2 linked regions of the Homo sapiens genome follow. The protein of the gene in region 2 purifies or fractionates together with the protein of the main gene of each other region. This does not show direct contact. Each region holds a gene or a part of one and is shown on either strand. Other genes may lie near its edges.

Region 1 (3,653 bases), on a different chromosome or scaffold from region 2:
TTTCAGCTTTTATGGCGTCTGTGTCTCAGACGTGCATTTGAGATGAAGATGTTTACTGTATATTAGAACGCTAGACTTAGAATGGATATAGGTGGTTTGTAAGTGCCTTCCAGTTTTGAAATTTTATGATTTTGTATCTTTATCTATAGGTGTGAGTTTATATGTGCCCTATAGCACTGTATGTAATTGAAATTTAAAATATTAGGGCGCTCTGTCCCTTTCCTAATGATAAGCTAATATTGAAGCTCTTTAATTTGTCTGGGGTTTGAGGATTATCATAGACCTCTCTTCTACCACAGAGCCTTCTCTTTTTAATTGTTCTCCTGTCTTGCCTGTTGAATTGAATTTGTAAGGTTAGAGATGGCAAGAGCTACTTCCGGTGCTGCTTTATAGCTTACTAGTGATGAGTCTATAGTTGTGCTCAAATAGGTATTGGGTAGCTTATGCTTTCTAGTTGACTTCTTTTTGGGCACAAGAAAATGTGTGTAAGATGGATAACTGAAAACCTAGAGGCCCATTCTGTAAAAGAATGGCAATTTGGAAGAAGAACCACGACCTCAGTGCAGTGCTCCGTTTTGGTAATCAAGCTCTGACTCCCAAGACACCATCTGTAAGAGACTATAATTTAAAACAAAGTTGATGAACCAGTTGAGTGCCTTTCTTAAAATTACTGTTGTAAAGTAGATATGTTGAAAATATCAACTGCTAATTATTGGCTCACCAACAAATGGCATGATTTGTTTTTCCTGTTTGTCATTCTAATATTATGGAATAATCACTGAAATATGAATGTTAAATGATTTGCATGTCATAGAATTCAATTCCATTAATTTTCCAAATTAATTAGATTCAATAATAATATGTCCAAAACAATGAGCCTCTGAATAAGTCTACTAAAGCTTTAAATATATATATTTATATCTCAAGACTGCTCTGAGATACTCTTGTCCCCAGTAGTTTTACTGCCAACAAATACCAATAATGACAAACGGTGATTAAAAGGGCAGATAGATGTAAATGAAGGCAGAGGAGGAGGATGAAATGAACATCTGCTTTTTTCAGCTCTCTGACAGAAATTCTTAAAGGACCAAAAATAACACTCTTGTTTCAACTTATGTTAGGTGTAGGAAAATTTTCTTTTTTTCTCTTTCCAGTCTGAGTATGCTTCATTGATTTGTATATTGAATACTAAATTGTTTTAGAAAAAAAAATCATTGGCTGATAAGACACTTAAATGAGAAAAGCTAGTCTGTCACAGGCATGTAGGTGTGCCATATCTATTTAAATAGAGGTTTAAATTATTGATGAGACTTAATGAGGAACTGGTGTATATTGTAACCAAAATTGTAGATTCCACTGTGAACAATCTGTGCATGGATCGATTCACATATTTGAGTCTACCATTTCAGGTACATGAATGTACAGGAGCTACTGGGAATATAAAAACTGGAAAATAAACATTATCATCTATTACCACTCCCTCCTCCTTGGTCCATTTTAGTAAAGAATTCAGTAAAGTGATAGGTAGGCTATCTTGAATGAGAAGAAAATAAAACTAGGAAAGTGAGAGAATAAAAACCAAAACAAAACTGTAACTGCAAACTGTTGTAAAGGACTACTCACAGAGGAGTTCTATTGAATAGTGACGAATTGCTTCCTGATTCACGGTTGGTGATTTTTTTACCCCTTCAAAGAGAAATTTATTATTAAGGAGGAACTGGTATAGTTAACATGTTTCTTTAGCAAGGCCCCACAAAGTTAAAATGTGTGATGCATCCAGTCTGAGGTCATTTCCTCAGATCTTAGAACCTACAGCTTTCCTCCGTATAAACTTAATTTCAAAGGAGGGCTTTTGGCCAGGCATGGTGGCTCAGCCTGTAATCTCAGCACTTTGGGAGGCCGAGGTGGGAGGATCGCTTGAGTCCAGGAGTTTGAGACAAGGCTGGGCAACATGGTGAGACCCCTTCTCAACAATAACAACAAAAATTAGCTGGGCGTGATGGTGCATGCCTGTAGTCCCAGCTACTCAGGAGGCTGAGGTGGGAGGATCTCTTGATCCCAGGAGGTCAAGGCTGCAATGAGCTAAGATCAAGCCACTGCATTCCAGCCTGAGTGATAGTGGGAGACCTTGTCTTTAAAACACACACACACACACACACACACACGAGGGCCTTTGACCACTCTTGAGTAGAAGACTCGAGAAGAACAAAGTAGAAGGCCAGAGAAGAACAAAGTTACTTGAAAGATCTCTTATTAAAGAGAATGTACAAGCTATGAAAAAAAAAAAACACACACACACACACAAACCTCATCTGGAATGAAAAAAACATAATGCATTTGGTTTCTGGTTCCTTAGGCTGTTATGGAACAACCAAAGAACATTATTTTGGTTTCTGAGGTCAGAACTATTTTATTCCCCTCAAGCACACTATGCTTATGGTTTGAGGGAGAATGAGAAATAGGAAACTAGGAACAGGCTGAAATGGTCTAATCTTGACCATCTAATTCTGCAGTGTCTTATTCTCATTCTAAAAGAGAATGGTTATATTCGCTGTTCTAGCATAAAAAGTAATGATAAAAATAAAAGATCCCGTATTACCAGACAATAATCCCCTAGACTGTTTTAATGCTTGGTTGAGTATTTGCTTATGATCTCAGACTTTAAAAGATGGTCTCCCCCTATGGTGAAGCTTGTTAATTATGTAGGCATCATTAATGTCTGTTTACTTATCAAAATTTTATCATTGTTAGTTGTATTACTACTTGACAGTCCAATTTATTTAATTGAAAAGATTGGTTAACATTTTATAGTCAAAGTAATTGTTTCCTGTGTTTTTTCCTGTTTAGGTTATTGGAGTGATGAGTAAAGAATACATACCAAAGGGCACACGTTTTGGACCCCTAATAGGTGAAATCTACACCAATGACACAGTTCCTAAGAACGCCAACAGGAAATATTTTTGGAGGGTAAGTAAGGGAAATTTCTTCAGACCCATTAAATGTTAGGAAAAAATGGAGCTAAAAGAGCTGGGTGGCTCACCTTTCTCATCCTGTGCTGAGAAATGCTGGGGCTCACCCATAAGTATCCAGCATCCCCATGGACACAGGGAATTCTGAACAAATGTGATGAAACCGATGAAATGTCTGGCCTGTAGGTGGTTAGTGATGGAGATACGGGCTATATGTGAATCTTGATTTTTGCAATTCATTAGAGCTTTGTAATGAAAGGAAACAGTTTGTTGCTTGCTTTAAGGATAGGTTCATTTGCATTTCTCCGCAAGGAAGTAGTAATGAGTTACCAAGCCTTAGATTTCACCCCTTTTTGATTTCTTGCTGACTTAACTTTAATTGAATGGAAGAGTTATCACAAATGAATTATCTTTTTGGTTTTTTTTTTTTTGAGATGGAGTCTCACTCTGTCACCAGGCTGGAGTGCAATGGCATGATCTCGGCTCACTGCAACCTCCGCCTCCCAGGTTCAAGCAATTGTCCTGCCTCAGCCTCCCGAGTAGCTGGGACTAAGGTGCGCGCCACCATGCCCAGTTAATTTTTGTATTTTTAGTAGAGACGGGGTTCCACTATGTTGGCCATGATGGTCTCGATCTCTGGACCTCGTGATCCGCCCACCTTGGCCTCCCAAAGTGCTGGAATTA
Region 2 (3,653 bases):
TCTCAAAAAAAAAAAAAAAAGAAAAAGAAAAACTAGCAACAAAAAAACTCTCAGGATTTTGTATAATAGGAACCGTGTATAAAGTAGAATAATCCTTTCCTAATGCTGTTAGCTTCACCTTCAGACAAGACATCTCTCTTTTCTATCTACAGTATGAAAGTTCATCTATTAACAGCCTTAAAAGATAGAAATTTTTAGTGTAGCTTCATCTGTTTGAACCAGTAGAAAACTGAGGAGAAAATAGCCCTCAATTCTTCTCACCCTGAGTTTTAGGAAAGTTGTCTGCATTGACTTGGGAATTCTTTCTTTGTCACCTTTATTCTTTTCAAATGAGAGAAGTGTCTACTAGTTCATGTTGTTCAATTCCAGTAGGTGAAGTTTGTAGAATGGTCAGGGTAGGATAATATATTTGGTGGCAGCATTTCCTTGAAATTATTGTCATTCTGCTCCAGACATTTTGTTCCAGGTAGGTACTTTCAGACTGTTTTGGTGAACACTGTATGTAGAAACATTTTTACCATTGAATGTACCACCAATGATAAAATGAGACCTGTCTTCTTTCTTAAGATATTTAAAGCACTTATTTCCAGTGTTCAGATAACCAGAAATGGATGGCCTGCTGTAGAAACAAACTACTTTTTCCCTTTGAAAGGAAAAATGGGTCTTTATAGTTAACTGCAGATTTTTTTTTTAAGGAACAGTGTATCTGCTTTGATTTTTAACTCCAACTCAAAACCAATTAATTTGCATTTCAAATTAGAATTCTTGGTATTTACCATTTTAGCTTTAGAAATGGAAAAACATCAGTATTCCTTCACCATTCACTTCTAGTCAGCTGTTGCTTCCCAATATTCTCCAGCACTGCACTGATTTTGATTTTTAAGATAAGCAACTGAGATGCCTTTTCCTCCCCACAGCAATTTTGAGATTAATTGCATTACTGCTGCACCAATTATAGTGAGACAGTCATGCTATTCAATGGAATATTTTGAATAAAATTAGTTTAAAGATGTAACTCTCCCATAGGTTTCCATATTGGAAAACTCTGGTCAATTTTCCTGACATCAAGTTAAATACTTAAAATTACCCATGATGAATAATCAGGATATTCAGGAAGTCCATTTTCTTTATAGAATAAATAATGTGGCCTCTGAGGAGCCTAACCGAAGACTTAGTTCATGTCTCTAAGTCACAATATTTAAGTGTTATTAGCTGTTCATCTTTTTCTCTAAATAAATGTCTACTTGTAATTTATGTGCAGATATTTAGAAAAATATTCTGCTTCATTTTTTTTTTGCCTTTAACAGTTCAGATTATAAAGACTATATACTTGCCGAGAATAGCCTCCCAGCAAATTGCGATGAACACCGTGCAGTGGAGAATTCCAACATGGGTATAATCAAAAATAACATTCTCAGTCTAGAAAAATATATTCCACTATTTCTTCAAAGAGTGTATCCTTAGGATTTTGTTTCCTACCACGGAAACTATTTTTGTACCCAGGAGCTAAAACTCAGATAGTAACATCTTTTCTATCATTGCCCAGGGGATTTTCTCAGTTAATTCTCACAAATGTCAACAAGAAATGTTTTGTGTAACTCTCCATGCACCACCATGGATGTAAGAGTAACTCAAATAACAATGCTCATTTGCTTGTCCTCTGCTTCCCCTCAGTACAGTTTAATTTACTTTGGAAATCTTTTATTTGTAGGTGTAAGGACAAACGTAGCTCAGCATTTTATATCATTGTATGACCTCTGAAATTTTAGATGCTTTACATCTTATTCTATCTTCTTGTATTAGTAAATCATCAAAAGTTGACCATAGATCTCGGAATCTAAATTGCCTAATGTGTGCATCTCAGCACACCTGTGTGTAAGAGAGCTAGAGTTTTGTATGCAGGAGAATGGTTCTTGACTGTAAATGATGAAAATTCCAGAATTCGTTGTATTTGATCTCCTAGATATTTTTGTGTCCTTTGTTTCAGTGATATCATCATGTAGGTGAAAATTGTGTTCTAAAAGCCAAAACTGACTCATTATAGAAAATGAAGAGCAGAGAATAAGGAAGCATTGGGTTCCAACTGTAGCTAGTTCAGTAAGGAATTCCATTTTAGCCTTTGGGCTAAGCATTTAAGTCTGCACTTGAGTTTCTTGGCCTACTACATGAAAGGATCAAGTCTACCTGGCTCTCAGGGGTGCTGTAAAGAGGAATTCACCTATACCATGACGTGCTTTGAAGATGAAAACCTTCTTTGAAATGCTGCTGCTCCTTATTACTACCAACCATTGACTGGCCTCTCCGACTCCGACTCGAGAGGGCCTGTGTGGCGCCTATGCGCAGTGTGCTGGATCCACACAGTCGTGTGTGCTGAGTGGACTTGTTGAACAAGATGACTGCCTTTTGGATTGCTTCACCCGGCATTCTGTTTTTGTTTTGTAGCCTAACGGCAGTGGTCAAGTAGTAGGGAAAGTGCCTGGCCATTTCACTCCTGTCTTGGCACCCTCTCCCCATCCCAGTGCAGTGCGACCTGTGACCCTGAGCATGACAGATACTAAACCCATCACTACATCCACTGAAGGTGAGGCAGCTTCACCTACAGCAACCAGTAAGTATTTCCATAGGAAATGAGAAATGTCCATCAGAGGCACCATTGGATATCTGATCCAAGGTGGAAAACACGGCAATTTTTCCAGCTACCTGACCAGATGGAGATTTCTCATTTAAGTGGAGCTAGCAGGCATGGATGTGGCCCTGCTATCACAGGCTCTCTCTTCTCAAATTCCAGTCAGTGAATCATATTTGAAAAGGGAGAAGCTCACTTGTTTAAGTTAACAGCTATAACAAAAATAATAAGTCATGCCTGCTTGTTCAAGGTATACATTGAAATTGCACTGAGTAACATAACGCAGAATACAAAGTTTTCGTATCACCCAAAGAGAGATTAGGTAATTGGTACTTATTGGAGCATTCCTATAGAAATCAAGCCCCTTCACAAAGCAGATGGAATCAGTGCCTCTGTAAGGTAATTGCATGTTTACATCATTGTAGGTTATGTCATTGTTAAAAACAGTCGCATAAGGTTGGGAACAGATGAGGACATTTCAAAACTTAGTATTAGGCACATGTAAGCTACCTGTACTTTCACTATCTGCAAGCTTTTTTTTTAAAACCTTTTGATTATTTTGCTTATCATTGGTACATCAAATACTGTGCTTTTTAGTGTGGCCATAACATTTAAATGTCAGAGATTTAGCCAGTGAACCTTCCTAACACGTACCAATAAGCCGCATCATTCCTTTGTTTTTTCATGTAAAATACTTAGAAGTATAGAAGAAATTAATTTTGAGGTGGTTTCACCCAACTGTCAGCTTCTTAGTACTGGAGCTGGAATGTACAAATTGGTGAAGTAGAATGGATAAAGCTATCGAATTGGTGGAATTAGCATGCACCTCACCAATTATACAGATATCTTCAATTCAAACCTTTTTTTTTTCTTTCTTAGAGCAAGAAAATCCCCATGATCTTGAAATTTCCATGTGAATCAGAGACAATCAGAGGCATGCACCACTCATTCTTTCTCAGCCATTGGAAAGATGCTCTTTTTTTTTTATGGTTTCTGAAAGACTAGGAAGGAACCCTATAAGAAAAAT

Evidence for each region. The genes of interacting proteins can lie anywhere in the genome.
Region 1: the proteins of NFIB (region 2) and PRDM1 purify together in Homo sapiens (co-immunoprecipitation; one large-scale study listed by IntAct). This does not show direct contact.

The regions. Positions count from the first base shown.
Region 1 is NC_000006.12:106,092,768-106,096,420, forward strand, and holds part of PRDM1 (PR domain zinc finger protein 1), read left to right. Parts: intron 1-2,847; coding exon 2,848-2,967; intron 2,968-3,653. UniProt on the Homo sapiens protein: Transcription factor that mediates a transcriptional program in various innate and adaptive immune tissue-resident lymphocyte T cell types such as tissue-resident memory T (Trm), natural killer (trNK) and natural killer T (NKT) cells and negatively regulates gene expression of proteins that promote the egress of tissue-resident T-cell populations from non-lymphoid organs.
Region 2 is NC_000009.12:14,115,136-14,118,788, reverse strand, and holds part of NFIB (nuclear factor 1 B-type), read left to right. Parts: intron 1-2,442; coding exon 2,443-2,581; coding exon of another isoform or gene 2,582-2,608; intron 2,609-3,653.